4 separate regions of the Homo sapiens genome follow, and regions 1, 2 and 3 are each linked to region 4. Evidence: fine-mapped expression QTL. A gene starts in region 4. Each other region holds a variant in brackets. All regions are shown on one strand. Distances are from middle to middle.

The links. PIP is the estimated chance that this variant, and not a neighbour inherited with it, causes the effect. A credible set is the group of variants that fine-mapping cannot tell apart.
Region 1: its variant is the best candidate, but not a certain one, in a credible set for the expression of METRNL in whole blood (INTERVAL, PIP 0.80).
Region 2: its variant is the best candidate, but not a certain one, in a credible set for the expression of METRNL in monocytes after interferon gamma (Fairfax 2014, PIP 0.50).
Region 3: its variant is the best candidate, but not a certain one, in a credible set for the expression of METRNL in whole blood (TOPMed, PIP 0.59).

Annotation. Positions count from the first base shown.
Region 1 is chr17:83,199,848-83,208,048 of GRCh38, forward strand. All of the region lies in intron 2 of LOC101929650 (a long non-coding RNA gene), which reads left to right. LOC105371948 (a long non-coding RNA gene) reads left to right here. Exons shown (of 3, transcript XR_933965.3): 3 at 1-139. Among named protein-coding and RNA genes, the nearest start is that of METRNL, 120 kb to the left of the region's middle. RefSeq lists a silencer at 5,602-5,761. The variant G/A (reference allele first, on the strand shown) is at 4,304.
Region 2 is chr17:83,097,582-83,105,553 of GRCh38, forward strand. No RefSeq gene overlaps it. Among named protein-coding and RNA genes, the nearest start is that of METRNL, 22 kb to the left of the region's middle. RefSeq lists an enhancer at 842-1,838. The variant A/G (reference allele first, on the strand shown) is at 2,670.
Region 3 is chr17:83,123,515-83,130,472 of GRCh38, forward strand. No RefSeq gene overlaps it. Among named protein-coding and RNA genes, the nearest start is that of METRNL, 47 kb to the left of the region's middle. The variant C/G (reference allele first, on the strand shown) is at 4,552.
Region 4 is chr17:83,075,177-83,081,528 of GRCh38, forward strand. It overlaps METRNL (meteorin like, glial cell differentiation regulator), which reads left to right and starts at 4,433. Exons shown (of 4, transcript NM_001004431.3): 1 at 4,433-4,809. The coding sequence starts at 4,640.

The sequences.
Region 1 (8,201 bases), 130 kb after region 4:
TTTTGCAAGACTTCGGAGGGTGCTCTGTGGCGATTAATATTGCTGAGCTGAGCACAGCTGCAGTACTTTCCTGTAAAACTGACTAAAGGAGAAGTTGGTGTCTTCCTCATACAAGAAATACATAAATCAGTTAAAAATAGTTCTCCGAGCGGATATGATGATGTCGTGGCCGTCACAGGAAACACATGAATCAGCCTCATCCTCAGTTCCAGGGAAGTGGGGACAGTCGGTGGTCCTTGGACCCCTCTTGGGGCGCGTGGGTGAGGCAGGGTCCCTCTGGCTTTACCTCATACCCGGACTGGCAAAGCTGCCTGGGAGGACAACTAAAACCATGCTCCTTTGATTCTGTGGACATTGCTAATTGCTGGGCGTTCATTTCTTGAATTCAGACCTTCTCATGAACCAGAGGAGCTGGCTCAGAAAAATGCCGGTGACGCATGGGCCTGAACTGGTCAGTGCAGCTCAGAGATGCTCGCCGTGGGGGACGTGCAGTTTGCCTGTGGGCCAGTTGTCCACCCGTCACCGTTACCCCGCTGAGGAAGCTGTGGGTGCCACCCAGAGAGCTTGGGTACAACACGGTCTCTGCTTTACTCATAAAAAGCCAAGACCTATGTGGTCATGGAGCGTTAAAACAGAAATTTCACACCACGCCGTACGGTCCCCGAGGCCAGGGTGTTGGCACATTTCACATCCAGGAGGTGCCGTCGCTGTCACTGGCTCAGCAAAGCCAGTGCCGAAGCCACTGCAACTGCCTGAGGCCCAGCGGTGGCTGGGAGCCAATTGGTGTCACTCGGTTACCACAGGGAAGGAGACGTGGCTGTAGAGGCTTGTCGCAGGTCACAGAGAAGGGACTTTTGGGCTCCAGGCCTAGTGGGTTCGAGTCAGCACGGTGTCTTCCCCGACACCAAACCCAAGGACCCTCAGCACTTCCTGACCTCAGGTTTCTATTTCTAGGGTGGGGAGTAGAGGTGAAGGGAAGCAAAGTCAGAGTTGAATATAAAGCTCCAGAAAAACTCAGCTCAGAATTGACTAGAGGGTTGAGAGCCTGAGATCCCTAAGGGGACATGTCAACCCAGGGCAGCCGCTGAGGGAGACTGACATGGTTTCCATGGTCCTTCCACTGGGCTGGGGCCCTCCCTGGGGAGTCTGTGCTGGGCTGGACCTTCTTCCCTGCCAGTGGCCTCTCCTGGCTGGTTGGGGAGCTCCGGGGGAGCAGACGGCAAGAGTCTTGTTTGGAAACATGCCCTTCCCAGGAAATCCCCAAAACAAAACCTGAGAAGATCTCCTGGAAGCTCAAAAGCAATTTTCTTTTCATATGTCGGGCCAATAAGAGTTAATTTCACCCAGTTTCTATATTTTCATGGGTCCTTAGAAGCTTTCTGACCCTGTGCCCTGAGACTTAGGGTCTGATGGCTGAAGGAACCTTGGTCCCAGGTCCCTCTCCTGTGGAGGGGCCGTCAGAGGGAGAGAAGAGCTCGCCCTGGTTCACTTGGCCTGTCCTGAAAGAGAACCAGGAGGGAGAGCAGCCTAGCATGGGTGCACACAAGCATATGTACAAACATGTGCTAGGGCAACTCACACACGTCCACATGCATGCACATACACACATGCCCACACCCATGCACACTTATGTGTGCACACAGATTCAGACTGTACCTGTACACTTCCACACTTCCACATGCATGCACATACACACATGCCCACACCCATGCACACTTGTGTGTGCACACACAGATTCAGACTGTACCTGTACACTTACTTCCACATGCATGCACATACATGTCCACGCCCATGCACACTTGTATGTGCTTGCACAGATTCACACGTGTACATGCACACACACATTAGCATGTCCTTGCATATGCACACATACACACATCTGACTTCACATTACATACACACATGTACATGCACATACATGACACACATGGCTCGAACTGGAGGGGAGGGTCCCAGTTGCTCCCCTCGCCTGACCATCTAGTAAGTGTTGTGCCCCATGCTGCCCCATCCTGGGCTCCTGGCCAGGCTCTAAGATTAACTAGAGAGGCTCTGTCCCTAAGAAAGGTCATGCACTTCAGGGTAGGTAAGGTGGACAGGCAAGGCCTGGTGACCTCGGCCCATCCTTGTGCCTCCAGAAGCCGTAACTCACCTCAAAGAGGTTTTCCTGCTGGAGGGAACTATCTCTGAGCAACAGGGGCAGACTTCACAGCTCAGGCGCCCTCCTGAAGGTAAGAGGCACTGGGCTCGCCTATCAAAGACACTCTCCTGTCCCCGCAGGTTCCCATATGTCCCATCAGGGAGCTGGGCTCCAAAGTCTCCCGCCCTGCTTCTCCTAGAGAATGCAAAGGCTGCCTCTCTTCCCTCCCAGTGTAACCTGACCCTCCTCTGTGCCCCTTGGCCACCCTTGCATCCTCTAGCTCCTTCTGACACCTTCTTTTTGACTGTTCACAGAGGGCAGGATCTGAAGCCTGCAGAGGTGACCCTTGGTGCCTTGTGCAAGGCTGGCCAGCAAGTAAGCATGACTTTTGGCTCTGCTGCCAGCTGGGCCATTTGATCTACACACACTTTTCTGCCTCTACCTGGAGTTAGGCGAGGCTCTCTATAGAATGGGTACTTGTCAACAAAGTGGGCTTAGACTCCGGGCAGTAGCAGTTGAGGCAGGAGCAGTGGGAGAAGTCTGGGCTAATGGCAAGCACCCAGTCCCCTCTGTGAGCTGCCCACTTGTCCCAGGCTCTGCCATGGCCCTTCCTCTGATTTTTAGGAGCTTTCATGAGGCCTCGCACAGCCTGAAGGAGCAGAGCTTGTTGTGCTAATCCCCAGCATCCTCTGCAGAGTTCTCAACACCTTGTGGCCGAAAGGTCCTTCAGATTGTCCAGGCACCCACCCCGAAAACCAGCCCTGGCATGGGGGTGCTGACCCCTCCCGGAGCAGTGGGGTGCAGGGCTCATAAGGCGGGGTCTGCAAAGCATGCTGGGGTCTTGCTCTGTGCTTACTCCAAGGATGCAGCCCGGAGTGCCACTGCTCTTGGACTTTCCTTGAGACACCCAGAGCATTGTGTGGCCATCACTTCTCACGTGGTCTGGCTGCTTGGGGGGCTGGCCTGAGTCAGCTAGGGCCAGTGCTCACCTTATCCTAATCACCTACTGGGGGATTTTGTAGGCTTGACCCTCCATGCCCTGGTGTTTCCCACAGGCTGTGAGGTTCTAGGGTGTCCCAGGGAGGATAGACGAGGCTGGTGTCCTAGGATCCCTCCCTGTCCGATCCAAGGTGAGGCTGCCAGGGAATGGAATCTGGCTCTCAGGCATGGGGGCCAGGCTCGCCTGCAGCCTCAATGTGGCTGGGCCCTGAAGGCCAGGGGTGGGTGGGGTGCAGCCCAGAGCTTTCTGCGGCTGAATCACCCTCTGGGTACAGGAAGCCTGACCGCATGACTTCCAAACTGATGCAACTCGGACTTTCTACTGAATTTGTGAGCTGTGATACTATTGCTTCTGAAGTCAAAGAGGGCTCAGAGGGTTCACGGAGCATTCCCTTTCAATGACGATCGGCCTCTCTGGAATATCTCCAGTGTCAGCAGGGATGGTGTCAGGGTTCTCCTAGCAAGAAGTCATAAGGAATGGAAGGGCTGAGAAAAATGAGGGTTAGAGTGACACCATGTCAGTCCCCCTGGCTAGCCTCTGCCAGCTGGACAAGCTGGGGCCTCCTCTCCACCTTGACTGGCCTGTGCCGGGGGAGGGAGCCAAGGGCAGGACCCTCTTGCACCTCTACCCTGGGCCTGGTCCATTCTCGCTCCTGGGACCTCCCCAGAGACCTCCGCAGCACACCCCACCAGCACAGTGAGCAGCACGGAGAGACCCAGACCGAAGTGGCCATGTGCTCCATGTGAGGGCTCCGTAGGAAGCAAGGATGTACAAGTGGCTCCTTTTCCCTTCCTAGGGGTCCCTTGCAGGGCTGGGACCCCACTCTAGGCGAGGCCTCTGGGCAAGGATGACCGTCCCTGCCTGCCTCTGGGAAAGAGTAAGTTCCTGCTCCTGGTGTCAGCGCCGACTGGTTCTCCAGGGACCACGGCGGAGGTCTGCCCTCTGTCTTACTTTCTCATAGAGATTTTCCGTGGGACCTGGGCTCCCTGCCTGGTTAGGGCTGGTTGAAGAATAAGTGGGAACGGTGGAGGAAGGAAGGGGATGTGCCAGCTGTTGCTCTGGCCCTTTCGTGTGGATATGAATCCCTGGTGAGAGGCAGATCCTGCGGTCAGTGCGGAGCCCACCACATTCCCCCAGGAGGGTGTGTCCGGGGCTGTGTATGGGGG[G/A]AAGCTGGGCAAACAGGGTCATGCCGTGAATGCAGGGGCAGGAGCAGGGACGTTTCTCTCTGCAGACACTGGTGCTCCCCAAAGCAGGAGAAATGGCACACAGCCATGTTGTGGACACATTTGTGAGAAAATTCCTCTGAATGTCAGAGAACATGGAAGAGATGAAGCTACCAGCTTAGAGAGACACAGGAACACATACTACAGACACACAGCACGCACATACCCAGACACACCCAGACACACTCACCAGACACACAGACTCACACAGAGAACACACCACGTCACACACAGAGATTCACAAAGAACCACATCACACACGTTTTCACCCACAGAGAGAACATACCCACATCATACCCATGTGCTGACACACAAGAGCATAAACTCACACACACATACATGAACTCACACCGAGAACACAGGCATCACACACAGGGACTCACGCACAGAGGGCATGTGGACACTACACACATGTTCTCACACAGCACACGCCCCGTCACACCCATGAACTCACACCGAGAACACAACATCACACACAGGGACTCACGCACAGAGGACATGTGGACACTACACACATGTTCTCACACAGCACACGCCCCGTCACACCCATGAACTCACACCGAGAACACAACATCACACACAGGGACTCACGCACAGAGGACATGTGGACACTACACACATGTTCTCACACAGCACGCCCCGTCACACCCATGAACTCACACCCAGAACACAACATCACACACAGGGACTCACGCACAGAGGACATGTGGACACTACACACATGTTCTCACACAGAACACACCCCGTCACACCCACACCCCCACATGCGTAGACACACACATCCTTACTCTGCGCGCATCCCTGGCCTGGTGGACGGAAGATCGAGCGCTCTGGGTGGACTTACGGCCACAGGACGGGGGCAGAGTCGGCAGGGAGGCCCCTCCGAGGCCCAGTGGGCCCTGCGCTGGCCCCGGCCGCAGACGCCCACCTGCTGTGCTGGCTGCGGCGTGTGCCCCGGGGTCTGTGGCTGACCTGGCCTCCACGTCTCACCCATGAAGCAGGCATGAGAGGCTGGCCAGGTTGGCTAAATGGGACCACAGCAGAAGCACAAGCCCCAGAATGTGCACGAAGGAAGAGAGAGCCGGGGGAGGTGGCGGGCTGGGTGTGCAGAGTGGGCCTGAGCTCCGGCCTCCTCCCTGGACGCCCTCCCGTGGCCGCAGCCATCCCTGCACCCACTGATGTGGCCTGACCCCTCACCCTGAGCCCACCCTTCGCGGCCACTAGGGAACCTCAGGAGAGGCCGCCGCGGTGGGGTGGGCGGATTCCCCCGGAGCAGGCCCAGGCCCCTGCTTCTGAGCGCTCCTGCAGCGCCGCCTGCTGGCCACAGAGAACCCGCGTGTGCCGGCCGCCAGGCCTGGGCATCTCCTCTCCTGCAGCGCCGCCTGCTGGCCACAGAGAACCCACGTGCGCCGGCCGCCAGGCCTGGGCATCTCCTCTCCTGCAGCGCCGCCTGCTGGCCACAGAGAACCCACGTGTGCCGGCCGCCAGGCCTGGGCATCTCCTCTCCTGCAGCGCCGCCTGCTGGCCACAGAGAACCCACGTGCGCCGGCCGCCAGGCCTGGGCATCTCCCCTCCTGCAGCGCCGCCTGCTGGCCACAGAGAACCCACGTGTGCCGGCCGCCAGGCCTGGGCATCTCCTCTCCTGCAGCGCCGCCTGCTGGCCACAGAGAACCCGCGTGCGCCGGCCGCCAGGCCTGGGCATCTCCCCTCCTGCAGCGCCGCCTGCTGGCCACAGAGAACCCACGTACGCCAGCCGCCAGGCCTGGGCATCTCCCCGGGCCCTAGTTCCCCCCCTCACCTAAGGGGAGGGACTCCCGTCTTTCCATCCACCCCCTCCTTGCCTCTGCAGAGCTCCAGGGAAGGCTGGCACCCGCTCACTGCATTTAGACTCCATCAGGTTCAGACAGTGGGTCAGGGTACAAGGCTTCAGCGGCCAGGGATGTGGCCTCTAATTTGTAGAGAGAAAGAAGGGCAGAGGTAGGTAGGTAGATATATGATAGATGGTTGATAGATAAAAATAGATGAAATAGATGGCATGGTTACATAGGTGGGTAGGTAGATAGATGACAGATAGAAAGACAATAGACCACTGGGGGCTGAGCCTGGCCTGAGCCAGAAAGGTGAGAAGGGGACAGCGGTGAGGACCCCACAGGTCCCTGCTCTCACCTATTAGCCCCAGTGTTTGGCCTGAGCTCTGACTGACAGCTCCCTCTTTCCGAGATGAGACTCAAGAGGAGGAAGAGGGGACTTCCTAAGGACAGGGATTCTTGGTGTCTCCTTGGGGCTGGTAGACACTGCCTGCCTCGCCTGCTGTGGCCTCTCTGCACACAACCAACGACCCCTAAAGGGCTCCATGGGCGCCCATGCTGCCCCCATCAGCTGACACCCCCTGTGCGAAGATTCTCCTCCTCCTCTTCCTCCTGCCTTTCTGTCCCCTCATCCTCCTCTTTATGGAATTAACTTCCCTTGGTCAACATCTTCCTGCTTCACTCACTTCCCTAAACTCCTCCCTATCCCTTCTCAATCTGCAAGAAAAATGTAGAAAGAATATGGTAAAGGAAAGCTTTGAGCCCATATTTGGGTCCAATGCCGACACCACATGCCCCAAAGCCCCCTTGAGAGCATCCACGTCCGTGTAGTTGAGTATTGCCCGAGCTGGAGTGAGATTTGCCTCTCTACGGAGCTGCCTTCCTGCAGTTCAAGAGCACTGTCTCTTTTCTGGGCCTCCTGCCTGGTGCAAGGGCCCCAGCTGAGCCTCCTCCAGCTCTGACCTCTGGTGGTCCCGGGCTACCCCAGAGGGTCTTGCCCGGGCTCTGACACTTGGCATGGGCTGGGAGCTCCAGCAGCCACAGCCCAGCCCTGGGGAGGCTTTGTGGTCTCTGAGGGGGCAGGTGCACTCCCCCAACTCCAGTTCATGTTTTTCCCTCCAACTCTAAGCCTTTTTCTTCCTCTGCTATTACCCAGGCACCCTACCCTGTCAACAACACTGGCCTTCAAGACCCTTTGTAGCATAACTCCCACCTATAACTCCCACCTGAAGCCAGCCCTTCCCACCTCTGCGCCTCTGATGCCCAGGACAGCTCTGACCGTGGGCAGCTCTGACCCAGGACAGCTCTGACCTTGGGCAGCCCTGATCTGGGGCAGCTCTGACCTCGAGTAGCTGTGACCCTGGGCAGCTCTGACTCTGGGTAGTCGTGACCCTGGGGAGCTCTCAGCATGGGGGTTGCACGCTCCTGTTTAGACAGCTGCCGTCCCCCAAGCTGGCTCACTATCCCATGTTGGAGTGCACTGTTCGGGGCTGCCTGCCTGGATTGATGCAGGGAAACTTGGTTCCAGCCCACCTCCTCCTGCGGAGGCTGAGTCAGGGGCTCTTCCCTCGGCCAGGCTGAAAGGCAGCAGTTGGTCCCCCTGTGAGGTCTTCCACATGGCCTGGGAGAGTCTCCCCATCTCTTCAGGCAGAAGGGAGGACAGTCCATAATGTTCCTTCCAGTCCTCTGACTTGTCATTTTTCTACCCCAAATCTTGCACTTTAACCCCATAGAGAGCTCCTGAAGGGGGAATTTTAACTGGCAAAACTCAGAACTCCATCCAAACACAACCGAAACCATCCTGGGTGGCTTAGAGGTGGCTGCCTCCCAGACAAGTCCATAGCCCCACAGAAACGTCTGGTCCTTCACCTGCTAGAGCTCAGGCTTTTTGGTTGAAGCCGGAGACAGGCCCAGCTCAGAGTGTGCCCCGGTTTATCCTGAGCACAGACTTGGTGCGGTGTGTGTGACAGACCAGCGAAGCGGGTCTTGCTGCCTGTCCTGTGGTTGGCCCTTGGCTCCCAGCCTCGAGTCCT
Region 2 (7,972 bases), 23 kb after region 4:
TGCAGGACACCCCTGCCTGCAGATCTGCACCCCCAGCTCCTTCCTGGGGACTTGATATCATGACCCTGCCTGGCACCCCAGGGGTGAATGCTGCACCCAGCCCTGAGGGTTTCCATCTGCTGGGGGCATCTGACCTGGGCAGGCCAGGGTGGGTGGGAGGGAGTCCAGCGGGGGAGGTGCAGGGTGGCCAGGGGGAGACACTGCCCTGGCTGGAGCCTGGATTCACTAGGTCATCACCAATGCAGGGGGTCCTGGCTCACTGGACTTTGCTACTAGAGAAGGTTGGGGAGCTCCACATGAAGGCAAGAAGGCTGGGGCTCAGGGTGTAACTCATCCCCGGAGAGCAACCAGAAAGGCCGTCGGATTGCAACGCAGCCTGCATTGTCCTCGCTGAACGCCTGGTCCTGTCCCACCTGCACCGGACAGCAACTGCTTCCCCTCCAGGGCGGCCCCCATCGTCCCCCAGGTGCTGCAAGAGCAGTGAGACTTACCCAAGACAAGTCAGAGGCTTTGGAGCTCTCGGGGGCGGTGGCTTCTCCCAGGAGCCCCGTATCTGTCAGTCCCCCCATAAGGGGAGGGGAGTTGGCAAGGCTCCTCCTTGCTCCCAGCGTGAGGATTGCCCCTACTTTTCCGGCCCCCACTTGCCCCCTCCACCTGCCCTTTTCCCTCCGGGAAGCCCTGGAGGTTTTCCAAGAACTCTGCGGGTCGAGGGGGCAGCCTATGTGGGGTGGCGGGGGGCCTCCTGCTTGTTGGATGCCCAGACGCCTACACCTTTCACCCTGGGGTCCAGTCGGCTGATGGCCATGAGAGAGAAGCTGAGAGCAACCAGAGCCCACAGCTCCATGCTGGTCCCCCATCTGCAAACGCTGGGCCCCATGGGAGCTGTGACTCGGTTTCCAGCTCGTCACAGGGCTGGCCGAGGCCCCGGCATGTCAAGCCATCTCAGGTTGGGCAGGAATGTGGTCCGTGTTCACATGTGTCTCTGTGTGTGTGAGAGAGAGGGGTCAGCTGGGACGCTGGGGTGGCAGGGACAGTCCTGGCTCACCCCTCATCCTCCCTCGACCTCGACTCCCTCCACATGAGGAGCCCCCCCTTCCTGGCTATCCTGTGAGTTGAGCTTCCTCTGCTGGGAGGGCTTTGTCAGAGGTTCCCTGCGGTTCCAGAAGGAAAGCTGGCTGCAGGGAGGGCCGGGCACTGGACACCGTGTGGCTGAGCCTGTGGCGGGGGCTGCACAGCTGGGTTCCCAGCCCCCCTCCTTGTCCCCACCCCACCGCACTGGGAGGCCCTGCTGAGGGGCCAGAGTCCGGCTGCAGGTCCCACGGGTGGGGGTGGGGCCCCTCATTAGCACTGCAGCTGACACTGAGGGCTTCCACCTCGCTAATTGATTAAACTGTTTAGAAACCAGGCCGGCGTGGTGGGAATTGGCCCCGGCCGGGCTGTCCGCTCCCCTTCTGTGCAGGCAGCGGCCCCCGGAGTTCATCAGTCAGGCCGGTTGGTGGGGTCCCGGCCCTGGCTGCCCTCGGGAACCCTTCTTTGCTCCTTTGTGCGGTCAAAATGGTGAGGGTCCTGAGAGGAGCTGGTGAGACCCCGGGGTCCTCTCCTCCCTGACCACTCACTGGGCGAGCATGGAGGGAGGCCTACTGTGCACGGGCATGTTCCTGGGAACCTGCCTGCTGGGATTAAACCCGCCCTTGTGAAGGACGGCAGGTGGGTCACTCAATACCAGGAGGGGCACGGGGCTGTGAGCAGAGGCCCGAGAGCCTTCTGAGGCGGCACCGGGTGCTCCTGGGCCCTGCTCTCCTGGGATTTGTTGTGCCTGTGACCTCAGCCTCTTCCTTCCTCTCCTGTGGGATTCCCCCAACACCCCCTCCCCTCCTGCCATTCCTTCCCCCACCAGGCCCCATGCCTCCCCTCCCCAGTGCCCCCTACCCCCAGGTCTTCCCTCTAGGACATCAGCCTGGGCTGTGGGTCTTGGTCTCCCACAGAGACTGAGTCCTGGGAGAAGGGCAGAGCCTTGGTTCCCAGTGCAGCCCCTGTGCCAGCCTGCAGTGGGCACCGGTTCAGCCGGTGCACACTGGGTCCTGCCCCCACCTGAGGAGCGGCCTGGGGCCTGATCAGCCCTGCTGGTGTCTGGCCTGCAGCCAGCACCGGCTCTGCTATTCACACTTGGTTACAGGTGGGTGCCCATCCCAGCAGCCTCGGAGCAGAGTGGGTCGGGCTCCGGAGGTGGGGGCGGCCACTAACAGCAGGAGGTCGTGGCAGTGCGGCTATGGCAGGGGTTCTGAGGGGCGGAAGGCAGGGGCGGGACGTGGGGACGCAGACCTGCAGGGAGGACGCCGGCTCACCCAGCAGGGAGGGGATGGCCGCCCAGGGACCCCCAGCCTGCCCGCTCTGCTTCCCCGACCGCCGGGGCAGGGGCCCCACGGGGGACGCCAGGGAACGTGAGGAATCCGGAGTCAACACTGGGCCACTGTGTGCTGCCAGCCGGGCGGGCCGTGATTTATAAAGACAGCGGAGGCTTGGCTGGTGTCGGGGCGGTGAGGTCACGGCGGCCGGGGGCTCTGGAATTTCTTCAGAAGAATTTTGCTTACCAAGCCACATACTTTTCTAGCCATCAGTTTGATCAGAGGCAAGATGAAAAATATGCTAAAAAACAAAGAAACAAAAAT[A/G]CACCCGGGGGGCTCCGGTGAGGGGGAGGGGCGCTGCGGGAGGGGTGGAGGGCCCAGGGAAGGGTGAGGGGCCGGGAGCCACTCTGCCCGGCACTCTCCGCCCAGAAACAGCCCAACGCCCCTTTCTTTCCCCTTTTAGCACTGCTGAGCTGGACTAAAATGCCCAACAAGGAACTTTACTAAAAACTGAGGCAAGAAAGAAAACACACATGACATAAAAATAGTCAAGGGCACATTCTTGATGGTAGATAACTGGTCTCTGGCCACAGCGGCTGCCAGGTTGGGTGTCGGCCGGCGGGTCTGCCAGTCCCACCCATAGGCACTGCACTTCCCTGGGCCGGACAGGGGGTGTGGCGGGTCTGTGGGCGGGGGGACAAGGTTGGCAGGACCGTGAGGGGGGTGGTGGGTCTGTGGGAGGGGGACAAGGTTGGCAGGACCGTGAGGGGGGTGGCGGGTCTGTGGGCGGGGGGACAAGGTTGGCAGGACCGTGAGGGGGGTGGTGGGTCTGTGGGAGGGGGACAAGGGTGGCAGGACCGTGAGGGGGGTGGCGGGTCTGTGGGAGGGGGGACAAGGTTGGCAGGACCGTGAGGGGGGTGGCGGGTCTGTGGGCAGGTGGACAAGGGTGGCAGGACCTGTGAGATGATGTGAGTGCAGCACAGTGGGGCTCTGTAAGAAGCGACCCGGGCAGCTTGAGCAGGGGCAGGCTGGGCGGTGCCTACGGGTCTCTGTCCACCGGAGCCTCTGTTCAGCCCACCTCAGTGTCGCTCCGGATGTGGATAGAAGGAGACACTGTCTGGGCCACAGACCAGGTGCTTCCTTCGTCCTGACCACACCTGCTTCTGCCCAGGAGACGCTGCAGGGGCTGTGCTCCCCGCCCGGCTACTCTTGAGTGGTCCCCAGGCTCCTCCTCCTCCCGGTTCCACCTGGAGCCGTGGGGCTGTGCCGGGGATGCCTCGCTGCAGCTGCAGCTCAGGGAGAACTCACTGCTGGAGCTTCTGCCTCTCCCGTGCCGTGGGGCCGAGCCGAGCTCCACCAGGGTCTGGACTTCTGCACGGGCAGCTGTGCTTCCCAGGGTCGTGGAGAGGGGTCCTTGGTCCCAGCCACTGTGTGACCTCGACCAGGACACTTGACTTTCCTGCCCCCAGAGGGTCTTGTCTGGACCTCCAGAGCCCCCAGCCTTGCTCACTTGGCTCTGCTTCTGGGCAGGGTGCCCTGGCATTGCTGTTGCTGGCACCTGCCGTGCCTTGGAGGGGTCTCCAGTGGGACCTCTGAGCACGGCTCTTCCTGTACTTCTCAGAGGTGAGCAGAGGGCATTTGTGGGAGAACTGGAACCTGGGGAGGAAAAACCCCAAGGCTGGCAAAGACTCCCTGCAGTCTGTCCAGTGATCCACTGAGGCTGAGTGGTGGAGGACATGGAGGCCGGCCCGGGACCAGGACATGGAGGCCGGCCAGGGACCTGGGGAAGAGAGGGCCTCAGTCTGGTGAGACCAGCCTGGTGGGTGCCTGGGGAAGAGAGGGCCTCAGTCCTGTGAGACCAGCCTGGTGGGTGCCTGGGGAAGAGAGGCCCTCAGTCCGGTGAGGAGACCAGCCTGGTGGGTGCAGGCCACCCTTGCCTGCTGTCAGGGCCTGCCCTTCTCTCCGGCCTCCAGCTGCTTTGCCCCAGCGATCAGGCGCCTGAGCTTCCTCCCCCGAGCCTGAGTCCAGCTGAGCTCCGTGTGGCTTTCCCGGTGGAGCAGACTCTGTCTGATTTCCCAACGGCTGGCGCCTCCCAGGGCGTGCTCCTTGCCACGGAACAGCCCCTTGGGGCCAGGTGTGTACTCCAGGCAGTGGCCCGGCAGTGCTGGGAAGTGCCGGTCATGGCTGCTGCACGTGGGTTGCTGTCTGGGAGAGTCCTGTGGTGTTTGCTGAGGGCGGAGGACACCGAGGACAGAGAATGGGCAACTTCCAGGGAGGGCCCAGATGCAGCCACGACTGGGGTGCATCTGGGATACCTCGTCCAGGGACACTCCCCACCATGGCCTGGTGCCTGTCCAGCAGGAAGAGCTTCAGGGCAGTAGGAAGGGGGAGTGGCCCCAGCTGCAGAGGGAAGGAGCTTGGTGGCAGGGCGGCAGGAGGGATGGGAGGTCAGGCTGACGTCCACTGGCGAGAACACTTCAGATGAAGATAGTGTGGACCCCTGCCCAGTCCCAACACAGGCCCCAGACGCCCTGAAACCCCAGGGGCTCAGCCCAAAGCAAGGGCAGGAAGCATTGCTTTACTGAGAAACCATAAAAATGTAGAATTCCACCTCAAACGCTGCTGTGGCCGATACTGAAGGTTAGAAATGAGCCGGTGGGGCCCGACACGGTGGCTCACGCCTGTAATTCCACCACTTTGGGAGGCCGAGGCAGGCAGATCATGAGGTCAGGAGATCGAGACCATCCTGGCTAACATGGTGAAACCCCGTCTCTACTAAAAATACAAAAAGAAATTAGACGGGCCTGGTGGCGGGCACCTGTAGTCCCAGCTGCTTGGGAGGCTGAGGCAGGAGAATGGTGTGAACCCAGGAGGCGGGGCTTGCAGTGAGCTGAGATTGCACCACCGCACTCCAGCCTGGGTGATAGAGCAAGAAAAAAAAAAAAAGAAAGAAAAGAAATGAGCAGGTGGGTGCTTCCCAGGGGGGCCCCGTGGCCTGTCGGCCCCATGCATGATGGCCCTCAACTCAGCCACAGCTCCCAGGGCAGCTGTGGCTCCTTGGGTGGCCCAAGACAGCTGCTGCGTGGTGTGAGCTTCGCTCATGAGGCTGGGCAGAGGCTGGGATCCCAGGTGTGAAGATGGGCCTGGGTGGTGGCTGCTGGACCTTGTTGTCACAGATGTGCCACCTGCTTCCCAAAACCGAGCACCAGGGGTCTGAGAGGTTGCTATGGGAAGGTCGCTTGCTCCAGGGGGCCCTGGAACAGTTGCTAAGTTTAACGCCCTGGCCCAGGATCCACCTGTCCTGCTGCAGACCAGCCCTGCTCATTCCTCCCTCTGGCTGTGAAGATGGAAGCCCATGGGTTGGATGCCTCGGGCCAGGGCTGTCACGCAAGGAAGCCTGGGGAGGACTGTGGCACTGACCCCATGGGCCATGGTATCGCCTCAGGGCCCTGCCCCTCTGATGTCCGTCTCCTCGGGGCCCCGCCCCTCTGGATCTCGTCTCCTCAGGGCCCCGCCCCTCTGGATCTCGTCTCCTCGGCGCCCCGCCCCTCTGGATCCCTGTCTCCTCGGGGCCCCGCCCCTCTGGATCTCGTCTCCTCGGCGCCCCGCCCCTCTGGATCTCCGTCTCCTCGGCGCCCCACCCCTCTGATCCCCGTCTCCTCGGCGCCCCGCCCCTCTGATCTCCTCTCCTCGGGGCCCCGCCCCTCTGATTCCAGTCTCCTCGGCGCCCCGCCCCTCTGGATCTCCGTCTCCTCGGCGCCCCACCCCTCTGATCTCGGTCTCCTCGGCGCCCCACCCCTCTGGAGTTCCGTCTCCTCGGGGCCCCGCCCCTCTGGATCTCGTCTCCTCGGCGCCCCGCCCCTCTGATCTCGGTCTCCTCGGCGCCCCGCCCCTCTGGATCCCCGTCTCCTCGGCGCCCCGCCCCTCTGGATCTCCGTCTCCTCGGGGCCCCGCCCCTCTGGATCTCCGTCTCCTCGGGGCTCCGCCCCTCTGATCTCCTGCACGCACCCGGCCTCGCCTGAAAAGCCCCACGTACAGCAAAGCGGCCGTGTCTTGGTGGCCTCTGCCTGGGGCGCTATGGGTGGCCTGTCTATGCCTCAGTTTCCCCATTCTTGATGAGAGGGAGCTGGGGTCGCTACTGGTCACTCGGGCCCCAGGCAGACCAAGGCTCACTTCTGTCCACTCCCTGGCCCCATTCCCAGGAATCCCACCGGTTCCTGGCCGGGGTCTGGAATCTGTTCTCCCAGTCCAGGACCTACCCTCCCCTCCACTTCCTGCCTGCAAGCTCTGTGGTCCTTCCTTGTCTTGAGTCCAGGGTTCCCTGTGCTCCCAGTCCAGCCTCCCTACTCAGGGCCGAGGGCACCAGGAGGATGGTCGTTGCAAAAGAATATGGGAGGCCGGGTGCGGCGGCTCACGCCTGTAATCCCAGTACTTCTGGGAGGCCAAGGGGGGCGGATGACTTGAGGCCGTGCAACACCTGCCAGCACCAGCATTTGACACGGAATCGAAGAAAACAGGCAGGACATACCCTGACTACACTAGTACAAGTCATCGGCGTCTCGGGGTCCTGGGTTTTAGAAATCACACTGTCAGGGAGGGCTGATGGGGTCCTGGGTTGGAGGCTGGAAGTGGAGGAATCGAGGCATAGGCAGAAACTTGAAGGAAGGGTCAGCCGAGCTGGCCAGAAGGGGGCTCCTCGCCACGGTCCCCAGGGAAGCACTTTGCTCATGGGCCCCGGCCCTGAGAGAGGAGCTCCTGCCTCTTCCCACTCGGAGAGGGCTGACAGGAGAGGCTTGGCCTGGTGTTTCCTGATGAGATAGCGGGCACGTTCCGGGAAGCGGTGAGCAGGCCCAGCAGACATCAGATGTGGTGCTTCCTGTCTCCTGTGAATGCGCCTGGCCCTTGAGGGGGGTCTGGGATGGAGAGTCGGGGGAGGGGAACCCCACTCGCCCTTCTCCTTGTTGTTCTTGGCAGCTGGACTTGGGCAATTGTGCCTCCACCCTCTGGAGGGGCCTCCCCCTGTGCTGGCTGCAGATCAGAGGGGCGATGGGGAGGGATCCACCGGTCCAGGCGGGGGCTCACCTTCCAGACCCGGGCGTGGGCGAGAGGGGTGCATGGGAGGACGCCCGATGCCTCAGGGCCCCCGGTCAGCAGCGAGGCACAGACTCTCCTCTGGGCGGTGATGGCCCTGCACGAGGTCCGTGTGCCGTCTGCCTGCACAGGGAGAGGAAAGGATCACGCGACCATGGGTACGTTGGCCACCTGAAGGTTGAGTCCCGCAGCCTAGAGACTGGAGCGTGGGGACCAGGAGGAGCTTCTTAGCGGAACTGGGCTGGGGCTCATGCAGCCCTCCAGGAGCCCCCGACGCGACGCCCTGGCTCATCCCGGGTGAAGAGGCTGCTGAGTCTGAACTGATGACAGTGGACGGGTGGCCGCCGGTTCCCAACGCATGGTTGGGCCTGGAACCCAGGTGACTCTGGGAGATGTGGTCACAGTCACAGCCGTCTGTGGGCCTTTGGGTTCAAAACAGCGCGAGTCACAGGAGACAGAAGGGAATCTGAGCTTGCGATTGCTCATTCTTGTCACCCTCCTGGCTCTGGGACACCTCTGCCATCTCCTACCAAGGG
Region 3 (6,958 bases), 49 kb after region 4:
CGTCACCACACCCGGCTAATTTTGTATTTTTAGTAGAGACGGGATTTCACCATGTTGGTCAGGCTGGTCTTGAACTCCTGAGCTCAGGTGATCCGCCTGCCTCGGCCTCCCAAAGTGCTGGGATTACCAGCGTGAGCCACCGCACCTGGACTGTTTATTTGATTTTAAGGCTACTTCGTGTTTAGGTGTGACAGTGTTATTGTGGTTACCCTCTTTAATACTCCTTGCATTTCAGCAGCATTTGCAGGGAAAATGATATAATGTGCGGGATTTGCTTTTCCACGTATGAGAGAGTGGGATGTGGATGAGCAAGATGGGCGAGTATTGATAATTACTGAAGCCAGGGGACTGGACACTGGGGTTTGTCTTACTATTTTCTCTACTTTTGTATTATGTTTGAAATTTTTAATAACACAAATGTATCAACATTGAGGCCCTTGTGGAGCCTACAGGCTGATGAACCTGTACGTGTGTGAGACGATGAAACGAACGAGAAGACGGCCTAATGTGGTGCAGAAGAAACGCTGTGAGGAAGCTGGGGAGGAGCGTGGGGGCTGTGATGTTAGAGGGGTGGCCTCACTGAGAAAGCACAGCACACGCTTTAGGGGTGGGGTTCCAGCCAAGAAGCCGCACAGCAGAGGCCATGGCTGGGACTGGAGCTGCTATGGCCCAAGGGGAATGGGGAGGAGGCCCCCCAGCCCTGGTTGGTGCTGGGAGACTGTGGACCAGGTGGGTTGGACATGGAGCCCCTGGAGGGCTCGGGCAGCCGTGGCACCATCTGGGGGCTTGTTGGGGGCACAGGGAGACCTGTTGACCGGGCCCCGCCAGGGACCAGGCAGAGCTTATGCTGCTGGGCTGGGGCTGGCCTTGGAGAGCTTGTGTGTGTGGAGCAAGCCTGTGCCTCAGTCCGTTCAAAGGAGCCCGAGAAAGAGGAGCATCCCCCGGATGGGGCCCATGAAGCTCCTCCCTGGGAAGCAGCCTGAGGGCACCCCTGGCCCAGGGGCTGAGTCCTGACGGCGTCTGCAACCTCTGGGCTGTGGTCTCCCTGAGCCCTGATGGCATCTGCAACCTCTGGGCTGTGGTCTCCCCAGTCCTGACGGCGTCTGCATCCTCTGGGCTGTGGTCTCCCTGAGTCCTGACGGCGTCTGCAACCTCTGGGCTGTGGTCTCCCTGAGTCCTGATGGCGTCTGCAACCTCTGGGCTGTGGTCTCCCTGAGTCCTGATGGCGTCTGCAACCTCTGGGCTGTGGTCTCCCTGAGTCCTGATGGCGTCTGCAACCTCTGGGCTGTGGTCTCCGGGAGCCTTGACGGCATCTGCAACCTCTGGGCTGTGGTCTCCCTGAGCCCTGATGGCGTCTGCAACCTCTGGGCTGTGGTCTCCCTGAGTCCTGATGGCGTCTGCAACCTCTGGGCTGTGGTCTCCGGGAGCCTTGACGGTGTCTGCAACCTCTGGGCTGTGGTCTCCCTGAGTCCTGACAGCGTCTGCAACCTCTGGGCTGTGGTCTCCCCAGTCCTGACGGTGTCTGCATCCTCTGGGCTGTGGTCTCCCTGAGTCCTGACGGCGTCTGCAACCTCTGGGCTGTGGTCTCCGGGAGCCCTGACGGCGTCTGCAACCTCTGGGCTGTGGTCTCTGGGAGCCCTGACGGCATCTGCAACCTCTGGGCTGTGGTCTCCGGGAGCCCTGACGGCATCTGCAACCTCTGGGCTGTGGTCTCCCTGAGCCCTGACGGCATCTGCAACCTCTGGGCTGTGGTCTCCCCGAGCCCTGGCAACCCCTATCCCTCTCCGCTCTCCTTCGGGCACACAGCCCGGCATCTCTGCTCTCCAAGGGCTCGTAGTGCCTGAAGCCGACACTCTCTCTCCTGCACACACACAGGTCGATGCCTTCTTGTTCCCAGTGCTTCAGAACAGAGCTGGCAGCGGCTGCGGCAGGAGCAGCTCCCACTGACAGGCTCCTGCAGCCTCCTTCCCACCTGCACAGGAAAAAAGCCCGCATCCATTCTGTAAGGAGCTAGAGCAGCTCTTTGGCATCCTGTACAGGCCTTGGAATGCTTCAGGGAAAAAAGATGATTCCGCATCAGAATGGCTGTGGTCAGACTTGCTGGCAGAAGCCTCCCCCAGGCTCTTGACATGTGGCTTCTGGTCCCTTTTCCTGCCACACCCCTGGGTTCCGCGCAGACCTGGGTCCTTGAAGAACTGAAATTCTAGCTCAACCTCGGCAACTCTGTAGCCATTCGCTGGAAATTTCCTAAGAGAATAAATTGCAACACAGTGCGGCGGATGGGCTGTGTGGGTTTATTTTTACCACGCGCTTAGTGCTATAAAGACGTCACCTTAAATCAGGAGCGTGCAGGCGTCAGTAGGAAATATGTGCATGTGGCAGGTGACGCAGGCCACACCCTCGCCCTCGAACCCCTGGCTTCCTGCACCTGAGCGGGTGGAGCCCAGCTTGACTCCAGCCCTGACGATGGACCTGGGTGCAGAGGGGACCCCTGGTGACCTGCAAGGTCCGACCTTCTGTCCCTTCATGCAGGGAACCTGTGGGGCTGTCACTCCTGAGGGAAGCTCTGAGTCTGTTTCTCTGGGGATTTGCCAGGGGAGAAGGTCATCCACCTGTCGGCTGGTAAGACAGGGTTCCCTGCATGTGATGACAACTTCCTTTCAAAGCCAGCAGCTTGCACAGCGTTTGCTCAGGTTCTCTGAACGGATTACCATTCATTCACCCTGCACCCCTGCTCCACTGAATGCTGGGGGCAGCAGAGGCAGCTCTGGCCATTGGGGCAGCCGCACGACTGTNGGGGGCAGTCAGGACCGGGAAGCCTTGGGCAGTGTAGGGTGCCGTGACCAGGGAGGGTCTGCTTCTTGCAACAGCCCCTTTCCCTTTGCACAGAAAATAATCTGAGGACAAGAACAGTGGCGTGGCTGGAATGGCTGGGGCTGCTCAGGGCCTCTGTTGTTCAGCTGGGCTTGCACCTGAGGCTGACCCCTGGTCTCTGAGACAAGCTGATGGCCATCAGATGCCACAACCCCTGTCTGGACAGGCCCCGAGGACGTGTGTCACCGCAAGGAGCTCAAAGAGGATGGTGGAGTGTCTGGGTCAGAGGTCAGGACCCACCTTGCATCAGCGGGCTTGGGTTTAGTCATTTACCTAGGAGGTTGAGGGTCATCCTGGCTTAAGTCCAGGGCATAGCACAGCAAAATCTACCCTTTGGGAGTTCATAAAGAACATGCATAGTTCTGGCCTCGTGGCGGTCGCCAGCTCTCCCAGGGCCCTGCTCTTCTCTGAGTGACCACTGCCCTCTGGTCTGGTGGACGCCTGGGCATCTGTTTCTATGAAACAACCTGTTTGTTTCTGTGTTTCAAATATTTGTGTTTATTATGGAAGAGACATTATTTTTTCATGGAATTCTGAAGACTGTCATTTTTGAAGGATAAGCAGGTTTTGGACAATTTGCAATTCTTACAACTGTCTGTAAATTTACATTACTGTTATAAATGAGAAGACCCTTCTGATATTCAGACACCTTGTTAAATACTGGCTCGTCATTGATGCGTGCAGCCCAGTGTGGGCTTTGTGGGGGTTTGAAGTGTGTGTGGTTTGTAGCACACGGACATTCCCCTCCCAACGCAGAGGCATCTTTGGCACGAGCTTCAACCGTAAATCCAGAAACAAGCTTGCTGGCTTTGGACTTCATGGGCCGGTTAAGTAACCCCCCATAGCTGAGGACTGATTTAAATGTACTTTTAATTTTGTCCAACAATAAAAAAAAAAATAAAGCAAGCAATAGCAGACATCGTCACTTATGGGAAGTGCCTGGGGACGACAGAGTCGGCCTGAAGGATGCTGCTCTCAGAGGCAGGCAATGGCCCCTCCGGGCACAGACGCTTTGGACTCTGCCTGTCTCCCTGAGCAGCAGCAGCCGTGACCATGTCCCTGTGTGTGGCCCTTGGTCCTGTGCATGTTCAGACCACAGCCCACAGCTGTCCTCGCGACCCCAGGCAGACACTGACCACAGGACACTGAGAGGTTCAATGCAAGGCAGGCACCACAGCACGAGGGGCTGAGTGCAAGAGCTCAGGCCGTCCTCTCCGAGAGCCCCACGCTGGAAGGGTGGGTGCGGGATCTGTAGGGTGGGGTGTGGGATCTGTAGGGTGGGTGTGGAATTGTAGGGTGGGTGTGGGATCTGTAGGGTGGGTGTGGGATTGTAGGGTGGGTGTGGGATCTGTAGGGTGGGTGTGGGATTGTAGGGGGGGTGTGGGATCTGTAGGGTGGGTGTGGGATCTGTAGGGTGGGTGTGGGATCTGTAGGGTGGGGTGCGGGATCTGTAGGGTGGGGTGCGGGATCTGTAGGGTGGGGTGTGGGATCTGTAGGGTGGCAGGTCCCCCACCAGGTTCTTAAGGCCCTGTGTTCGCAGCCTGGGCCCTGAAAGCCAGGTGGTGAGCCAAGGCCCTGGTGCCCAGGCCAGGAGTTGGTGTCTCTGAGAACCCAAAGATCGAGGAGAGGCTCTGAGAACCCACCGAGGAAACAGCCCCATCACACACACACAGGAGG[C/G]AAAGCCAGAAGATCAGCTTAAAATAGTTTGGAGACGGGAGGCGGCGCAGGTCTCAGGGCTGTCCTGCCACTGTGCAGCAGTGTCCTTGGTAAATCCTGATCAACACATTGACTCGTCAGATAACGTGGACCCTTCTGAGTCATTTCTTGGTCTTTTGACCCTTCCCAGTTTGGGAGGGGGTACGTCACAGTCCCAAGTTTTTCTCGTAAAGGGGTGTCCCCCATAGAATGCACCCTTGAGATCACATGGTCCTGGAGCCCCTTTCCAGGGGGTTCCAGAACAATGCTATGAAACATTTGTTCATTTGATTCGTATTTGTTGAATTCCTGCTACCTACCAGTCACTCTCAAGCATAACACGGAGCTGGTTCTGCAGACTACACCCGGGCATCTGGGAACTGGCACCCAGGAGAGCACCCGACACCGCTGAGCTGGGCCAGCAGGTCGTTCTCTCTGATTCCCCATCAGCCTTGCAAGACCTGTCTTAGGAAGAGGAGTCCAAGTGAGAAAGGGGCAGATCCTGGAGCCGGGAAGGGATTTGGGGGAGGGCCCCTGACGCCCTGTGGGCTGACCGTTCCCCGGTGCCACTCAGGAGTCTCCTGTGGAGCCCTCACATTTGCAGTGGGATGTGCTGTAGGTTTACGGGATCCCAGCGCCAGACAGAGTGAGAGGAACGGGACATTCATGCTGGTGTCCGTGGGTCCCGCCTGTTGCCTCTCAGACCTCTCACCGAGCTTCTTGACCTGGGCTTCGCAGACCCTGGGCTCTTGGACCTGTGTTCAAAGGAGCATGGACTCTGGCTGGGNTTGCTAAAGCTTCAGANAACTGTCCAGCGCTGAGTGGAGCGGAGGCAAGCCCAGGGGTGCTGCCCAGAGGCAGCTTCCTGAGAAAATGAAGTTGCTGTTGTTTAAAGCCACCGAGGTTTTGCAGCAACGGGGGAGTGAGCATTGGTCTCCACCACGCCCGGGGCCGGGTCAGGCCAGGACGAAGGGTGATGTTTCCTGTGCGGATCCCGTAGGTGGAGTTCACCGTCACTGGGAGGCCTCACAATCATTGCTTTATTCACCTCGACAGGTCCCATGAGGCGAGCCCCCGCTCCTCCCTTATTTAAGCATTTTAAATAACGAGTTTACAAATTTCCAACTTCAAAATGTGTTAAAAAATCTTCACTCCTCCCACCTCCTCTCCCGTCTGCTCAGTCCTGCCTCTTGGAAGAGGCAGCCATTGTCACTGGTGTCTTAGGTGACTTCCCAGAGGTCCTTTAGCACATACAGTTCAATACAAATACATATTCCCTGACTTTTACACCAACGGCAGGATGTTACATACACTTTTCTCCTTGTTACTTAAAAATTTTTAAATTTTCTTTCATTTTTATAATAGACTTTATTTTTAGGGCAGTGTTAGGTCTACAGAAAATTGAGGGGATCGTAGAGAGAGTTCCCACATACCCACGTCCAGTTTCTTGCACTGTTAACAGTTTATGTTAGAATGATACTTTGTTACAATCAATGAACCAGTGTTGNCACATGATTGTTAGCTAAAGTCTGAAGTTTATTCACGTCTTTAGTTTCCCCTAAATGTCCTTTCTCTGTCCCAGGACCCATCCAGGGTCCCACATGACACTTTGTCCCGCGTCTCCGTAGGCCTCTCGGGGCTGGGCAGTTCTCAGACTGGCTTTTGGTGACTGGGACAGTTTTGAGGAGGCCTGTTGGGTGTTTGGTAGCTGCGTCTCTGTTAGAATTGTTCTGATGTGTTTCTCGTGGTAAGACTGGGGTTTGGGGCCTGGGGACAATGACCCCAGAGGTGAAGTGCCCTGCTCACCCCATCCTGTGAGGGACTCACACACCCAGCACGGATGCTTGCTGTGGACACTGGCCTCGGCCACCCAGCTGAGGGGAGTCGGTCAGGTCTCCCCACGGTGATGTGATCCTTTTCCTTCCCTCTCCATACTCTCGGGAAGGAAGTCAGTCTACACAGCCCACACTTGAGGGTTGCGTATTTATGTTTAATTTAATATTATTTATTGGAGATCTTTTCATATGACTACAAAAAGAACTTCGTGTTCTGTTTCACGCCTCATAGTATTCTATTGTACGCATCTGCCGAGACATTTGACCGGTCCTCTCCTTGATGTGCATTTAGGATGTAAGTATCATTGAAGACACATACTTTTTTTTTTTTTGAGATGCAGTCTCACTCTGTAGCCCAGGCTGGAGTGCGGTGGCGCGATCTCGGCTCACTGCAAGCTCCGCCTCCCGGGTTCACGCCATTCTCCTGCCTCAGCCTCCCGAGTAGCTGGGACTACAGGCTCACGCCACCACGCCCGGCTATTTTTTTTGTATTTTTAGTAGAGATGGGTTTTCACCGTGTTAGCCAGGATGGTCTCCATCTCCTGACCTCGTGA
Region 4 (6,352 bases):
GGAGGGTGAGATGCTGCCATGAACAGCTGCTACAAACAACTGCTAGGACGGTGTGGGGCCAGCGTGCCACACAGAACTGTCTCTCACTGCCGAGCTGGCGGCTGGTGGCCTCTCTCCACCTGGCCAACCTGGGGGCAAGCACCACCCAAGGTCACATAGCCGGCCAGCATCGGCCTGGACTTGTATCTGACTCAAGGAAACTCCCTACTCCCACTTTTCTCTGACGCACAGAGAGCAGCACATGGCAGCAAATTAGGTTAAGGAGGGGGTTAGGGAAGAATGACACACTGAAGGTCATCAGGTGGAGGCTGGCTGGCATCCGTGGCTGTTTCGTGTAGTAATTACACGTTGCTCATTGAAGTTGAGTTACAAGCACAGGCTCTCCATGTATCATTCAACCACAATTACGATAATTACGAGAAGGTTGGCGAAAATGGCCTGGGAGGGAAACGGGTGGCAAATGACTTGGGAGGTGGTGGTTGGGCGGGGCCGTGGGATGAACTGTGCTCACGTGAACGACAGACTGCGACGTTCTTCAGTATTTTTCAAATGCTGAAAGAGAAAATTTCATGGACGCGCTTGGGGAAACCGTGTGATGTTTTTCTGGAGGAATCCAGCTACTCTGGGAGGAGCTGTTTCTTTAGTGAGTGGATTCAGGTGACTGGTCATCTTGGGCAGCACATTGGCCGTCAACACACATTTGAAAACCTCAAGACTGGGCCAAAAATAAAAGCAGTAAAGTCCACCGGGTTGTGCCAGTGGCTCAGAGAACTCGCAGCTGTGGGGAGCACGGCGGGAGGGGTTCCCCCCACCCAGCCCCATGAGGGCCCCAAGGCCTGATGACAGCCCGGTGGTGCCTTGAACAGGTGAGAATCAGCCCCCACCTGGGGACGTGGCGTTGAATCCTGACATCGTAAACCCTACGACGCCCTGGGAATCAAGAACAGATCCACTTTGCAGGTAACTGAGGCTCAGAAACAGACTCCAACCCCACCATGTCTGTGACCCAGAGCTGGGGGCTGACGTCCGAGCCAGGTCCGTCCACCACCCCACAGGGCCTGTAGGCACCCGGCATAGGAAAGGCCGAGAAAGGGGTCCAGTCCCACAGCCCTCCACCCCAGCAAATTCCCAGGTGCTGGGTCCCTGCAATGCACGCGATAAAAACTCCCGGGTCAAATACACAGAGGTGACCCTGCCGAGGTCACTCGATCCTAACAGTGGGTCGTGGTCCTCGGACATGGGAGGCCACGTCCTGCTTTCTGAGGCCTCAGACCCTGGTGAGGCACAGAAGGACTGTCCAGGGTGCACCCAGAATTTTTTTCACGGACGTCTGCCCAGGAGGCTTCTGAGAGCTGTTTCTCGAGGGAATGGATAGATGAGGAAAGAGAGAGGGTTGATGTAGACCTACGGTTGGGCCACAGGCCCCCCTGGCCCAGGTCCCTTAGCTGCCATCTCCCAGGATGCAGAAGCATCACTGCAGGGCCCGCCGGTAGAGGGAATGGGCAGGCGTGATCCTGGTGGGTTCTGGAGCTCTCCGATTCCACGGCTCAGCCTCAACGTTCCGACTCAGGTAGGAAGTATCAGAGCTTCACGCAAAGCTGCGAAGACCAGCTCCTTCCCACGAGTGGGTGGGTGGGATGATGCTGTGGCCCCTTCCTGGGTCTAACCCCGTGACATGCTCACTGGGAAGCAGTCCCTTCCCAGACATCCAGGGACAAACACACCCAAGGCCCTTTCCTTGCAGACCCTCCCAGAGGACCAGGGGGAGGGCCACACACCATGACCAGCTGGGATCCTTTTGGTTCATAATCGGCCTCTCGGGGTCTGGTGGTACAAGGGGCAGTGTACCAGTGGCTGGGAACACCCCCAGACAGCCTTGACCACCTCAGCCTGCATCCTCTAGGAGCCTGATACCTCCTGACACCAGGAACCCCGTCTACAGGGGACGTCTCACCTGTAGGTGGCCTCGCTGGGCCAGGACAGGGGTCAGCAGAGGTGCCCAGGAGCACCCAATGTCTCTGGGGCATGAACCTCCTCAAGGGAACAGCTTGGGGAACCACAGCCCCAGGGTGGAAAGGGCCAGGCTCCTTTCCCAAGACAGATTAGCTTCTTCCGAGAATACTGGCCAGCAAGCATTCTTACTCTAGTTTTGTTTTGTTTTAATTAGCAGACTTAATGTTTTAGGTTTACAGAAACACCAAGCAGATGGTAGAGGTCCCCCACACACCCTCTCCCTGACCCAGTTTCTCTTATGATTACCTTCTCTCATTAGGGTGTAGGCGTGTGACAGTCAAAGAACCAATATTGATCCGTTATTATTACAAATGTCTCAAGCCTCCATCAGGATTCACTCTTGTGCTGTATTTTCTACGGGTTTTGAAAAGTACACGTGGGTCCCATACTCACCATCGTACGATCCCAGTCTTAGGACAGCCCGCTGGGCACAGGAGGCTGGGCATCCTGCCAGGTGGCAGATCTCTGCCCCAGCCTAGGCTGGAACCAGCTGCCTGCTGACCAGAGGCGGCCTCTCCCCTTCGGTCTAGCAGCCACCAGGGGCTCTGAGACCCTGAGCAGGTCACGGCAGGTCCTGAGTTCCCCATGTCCGCATCTATAACTCAAGAGATCCCAGCACTGCCCTGCCTCTTCCGTGGTGTGATGATCTGGACCCTGATAGGCCATGTGGCCCTTCAAGGGTGGACCGGGCCTGGGGGGGCTGCTATCTTATGCTTGGTGGGCATGGAAAGCAGTTGCTGCGCACAGGTGTGAAGCCGCAGGTCCCTTTCCACAGCAGGTCCCTTTCCACAGCAGGTCCCTTTCCACTGGGCACCCTGGTACCTGCAGTGATGGGGGTGGGGGGAGGTGCACTCCTAGAGCAGACGGGGGTGGGTGGGGCAGTCTCCAAGCTCCGAAATGCACCTCCACCAGACCTTGAGCCTCAGGGTGATGTCACTTGATGTGCTGGGCAAGGTCCTGGCTCCAGGCTTTCGATGGGGTGGGTGCTCTGAACAGATCCTTACAATGAAACTACCTTCAGTGGTCACTGTCATCGCCTTCCAGTTCTTCAGACCCTCACCCTTGTCCCAGCTTTCCTGGGCTGGGGGCTGGGCTCCACCTGCCTTTGCCGGTGACTTCCGTCCCTGCAGACTCACAATTTTCAAAGCCCTCTCCCCGCCTCCTCTGGTAGTCACAACCCAGTTATTCAGACTTGCACAGGTCGTTCGCAAGTCCTCCTGGAAGGTATCTTGGCTGGAAAAGGGGACAAGGCCAAGCTTCCCCACCGCTGGATGCTGCGCTCGGCTCTGGAACTGACACCAGGCGTCTCGGGCAGGGCCACTGACCCGCAGCACACAGAAGCCAGCTTTGCCATCGCAGCGGGGACCGCCGGGCGGGCCAGCTCCGCCCTCTCCTGCCTGGGGGGCCCTCGGCACCCTCTGGCTCCCCTTCTCTGGCCTGAGTCTCTAGGGCCTCCCCAGTCCGGGCGGGGGTCTCCGCTGTCCCCCCCACTGGGTCAGGCACGTGGTGGCCGCGGTGACCACCTGGGGAAGGCGCCGACTCCGAGGAACACACTCGAGCAGGACGCTCCGCAGGTGATTCTGCCCCGCGGGCACGGGGTGGGGGCGGGATTTGGCCAAATCTGCAGAGAGTTTAGGTTGTCAAAGCTGGGGCGGGGGTTGCTACTGATACCCAGAGTGCGGGGGCCAGGGTGCTGCCAACATCCCACCATGCGCAGGACGTCCCCACCCCAAGAACCACCCGGCCCCGCGTATCCGGAGCGAGGAGTGGGCAGCGCTCGGCAGAGGCCCCGGCGCGGCGGCTGCACGTCCTCCGGGAGGAGGGAGGGAAGCCGGGCTCACCGCCGGGCCTCCCCCCCGGTCAGGAGGGAGCCGGGAACTCCCGAGGCACCAACTCTGCGGAACGCGGGGCGCCCGGATCGCCCCTGATCACCGCCCGCTGGCGAGGCGCGGGGGACCCAGAACCGGCGGGGCCGGGAGCCTCCTTTACCGCTCCGCGCCGGGGCTGCCCGCAGGATGGGGCGCAGGATGGGGCGCAGGATGCGGCCCCGGCACCGCCTCGCGGGGGTCTGCGGGGGGCGACCGCGGCTCGCGTCGGCCACTACTTGGGGGTCTCGGGTTTCCGCCCCGCCCTCGCCTTGCAACCCCTCCGGCCCCGGACTCCGCTTTCCAGGCCGGGCTCTTCCCTCCGGACCCCGCTCGCCGCCCGGCGCGGCCCCCTCCTCCTGCAGCGCCCCCCGCCCCGGCGCCCGCGCCCCCGATTCGCTGCTGACTCGGTGTCTGCGCGTCCGGCCGGGCGCCCCGGGAGGAGTTTCCGGCGCGGGGCGGGGTCGGGGGCGGGGTCGGGGGCGGGGCGGGGCGGCGGGTGGGCCCCACCCCCCAGCTGAGCCCGGCCGGGCGGACTCGGACTCGCCAACTTCAGAGGCTCGGCGGCGGCGGCGGGCGCGGAGCTCTGCGCGCGGCTCCAGCGGGCCGGGATGGGCGGGCGGCCGCGCGGAGGACGCGGGGGGCGCGCGACGTGACCACCCGGACTCGAAGCCCGCCCCGCCCCCGCCCGGCTCGCCGGCTCCGGGGTCTGCTCCGGGGGTCGCGGACGCGGGGCCGGGCGGCGGAGCCGGCGCCAGAGCATGCGGGGCGCGGCGCGGGCGGCCTGGGGGCGCGCGGGGCAGCCGTGGCCGCGACCCCCCGCCCCGGGCCCGCCCCCGCCGCCGCTCCCGCTGCTGCTCCTGCTCCTGGCCGGGCTGCTGGGCGGCGCGGGCGCGCAGTACTCCAGCGACCGGTGCAGCTGGAAGGGGAGGTGAGTGTGCGCGGCGCGACCCCGGCCCGGCCCCCTCCCCTCGCGTCCCCTCCCGTCCCGGGCCGGCCGAGCGTGCGGGGGCGCGGCCGGGGGCGGGCGCGGGGCAGGGGCTCCGGGGGCCGCTCTCCAGGCCCAGTCCGGTGCCCGCTGTCCCCCGCCCCCGGTTCTAGAACAAAAGAGCCCGCGGCGTCCCGGTTCCCGGCCCGGAGGACGCCCGGGGGAGGCGCGCCTGCAGCGCGGCCGGGTGGGTCCCGGCTCCGCGCGTGTCCGAGCCTCGGGGGCCGCCGGTCCCGCGACCCCATCCCGGGGGCAGGCGGGGGTCGGTCCTCGGGCCCTTCCTGGCAGGCTCCGGGAGTTGCGCGCCCCGAGGCCGCCCCGGGCCAGAGCGGGAAGGGACGGCCGCGGGAGGGAGCGGCGGTTTCGGGGATCGGGCGCGGACCGCAGCGGGGGCCACTTCCGTCTCGGGGAGCCGCGGGCGGGCACCTGTGAGCCGGGCCGAGTGTGGCTCCGGCCGGGCCCCCCGCCCCTGCCCCGTGAAGGTCAGGCCGCCCTTGGCCGCGGCGCGCGCTGCGCTGGGCGACCCCCCCCCCCCCCACCCGCGGTGGCGGCCGAGGACTTTTTTTTTTTTTTTTTTTTTTTGACTCAAGCGTGGCCGCCGAGAGCGGCGCCGACCGCGACTGCCCCTCGGGAGCCGCCGCCGCTCCCACGCGAAGCCCAGGGCGCCGAGGGCACCGCGGCCGAACCCGCCCTGCGCGAGCCTCGCAGTCGCCAGTTCCGGGGTTCGCAGATGCGCGGGGACCCGAGTGACGCGCGCCTCCCGGAGAGCCGTGGCCGGGCTGGCCCGGGCCTGGGTCCCGCTTCCCCTCGGCGCGGCCCCCGCCCCCGCCCCCGCCCCCGCCGCGGGCCGAGTCACGCGGTGATGTCGAGCGAAGCTGTTTTCCGAGAAGGTCGGGGCAGAGCCGGTGCGGGGCGGGTGGTGTCCGCGGGGCGGGCGCAGGTCTCCCCGCAGCCGCAGCCTCCGTTCCGGGTCCCCGCGAAGCCACAGTCGCCCCCCAGCGCCCCCGGCGGAGCCTCCCCGGGGGAAGGGGCGTGGCGCTGGGGGGCAGAGTCGCCCCGAGGGCCGTGGGCGGTGCCCGGCTGTCCCGGGAGCGGCCGCCTCCCTTCTCGGCCGAGCGGGGCCGCGGGCGGATGGAGGTCTGGGGGGGGTCGGCCGGGAACGCCGGCGCCGGGAGCCTCCGAGGCCGACGGCTCTTCTGGGGCCGCCCCTGCCCCCGCGGAGTGATTCAGCCCCGGCTCGCTGCCTCTGCCCGGCGGGTCGGTGCATCCCCGAACCGAGGCCCGGGGCGTTCCGCTCCAGCAGACCGAAGCCAGAAACGCCGCCCCCGCCACCCAGGCCGAGTGTGTCGAGAAGGGGCCGGCGCCCTTTTCAGGGTGTCAGGGGACTGTGTGCCCGGTAGGAGGGGGCGCCTCCCGGAGCCCGAAGGGAGGGCGCGGTAGGCAGCCGAGGGTGGCGGGGAGGCCACCCCTCCACCTCCAGGGGCGG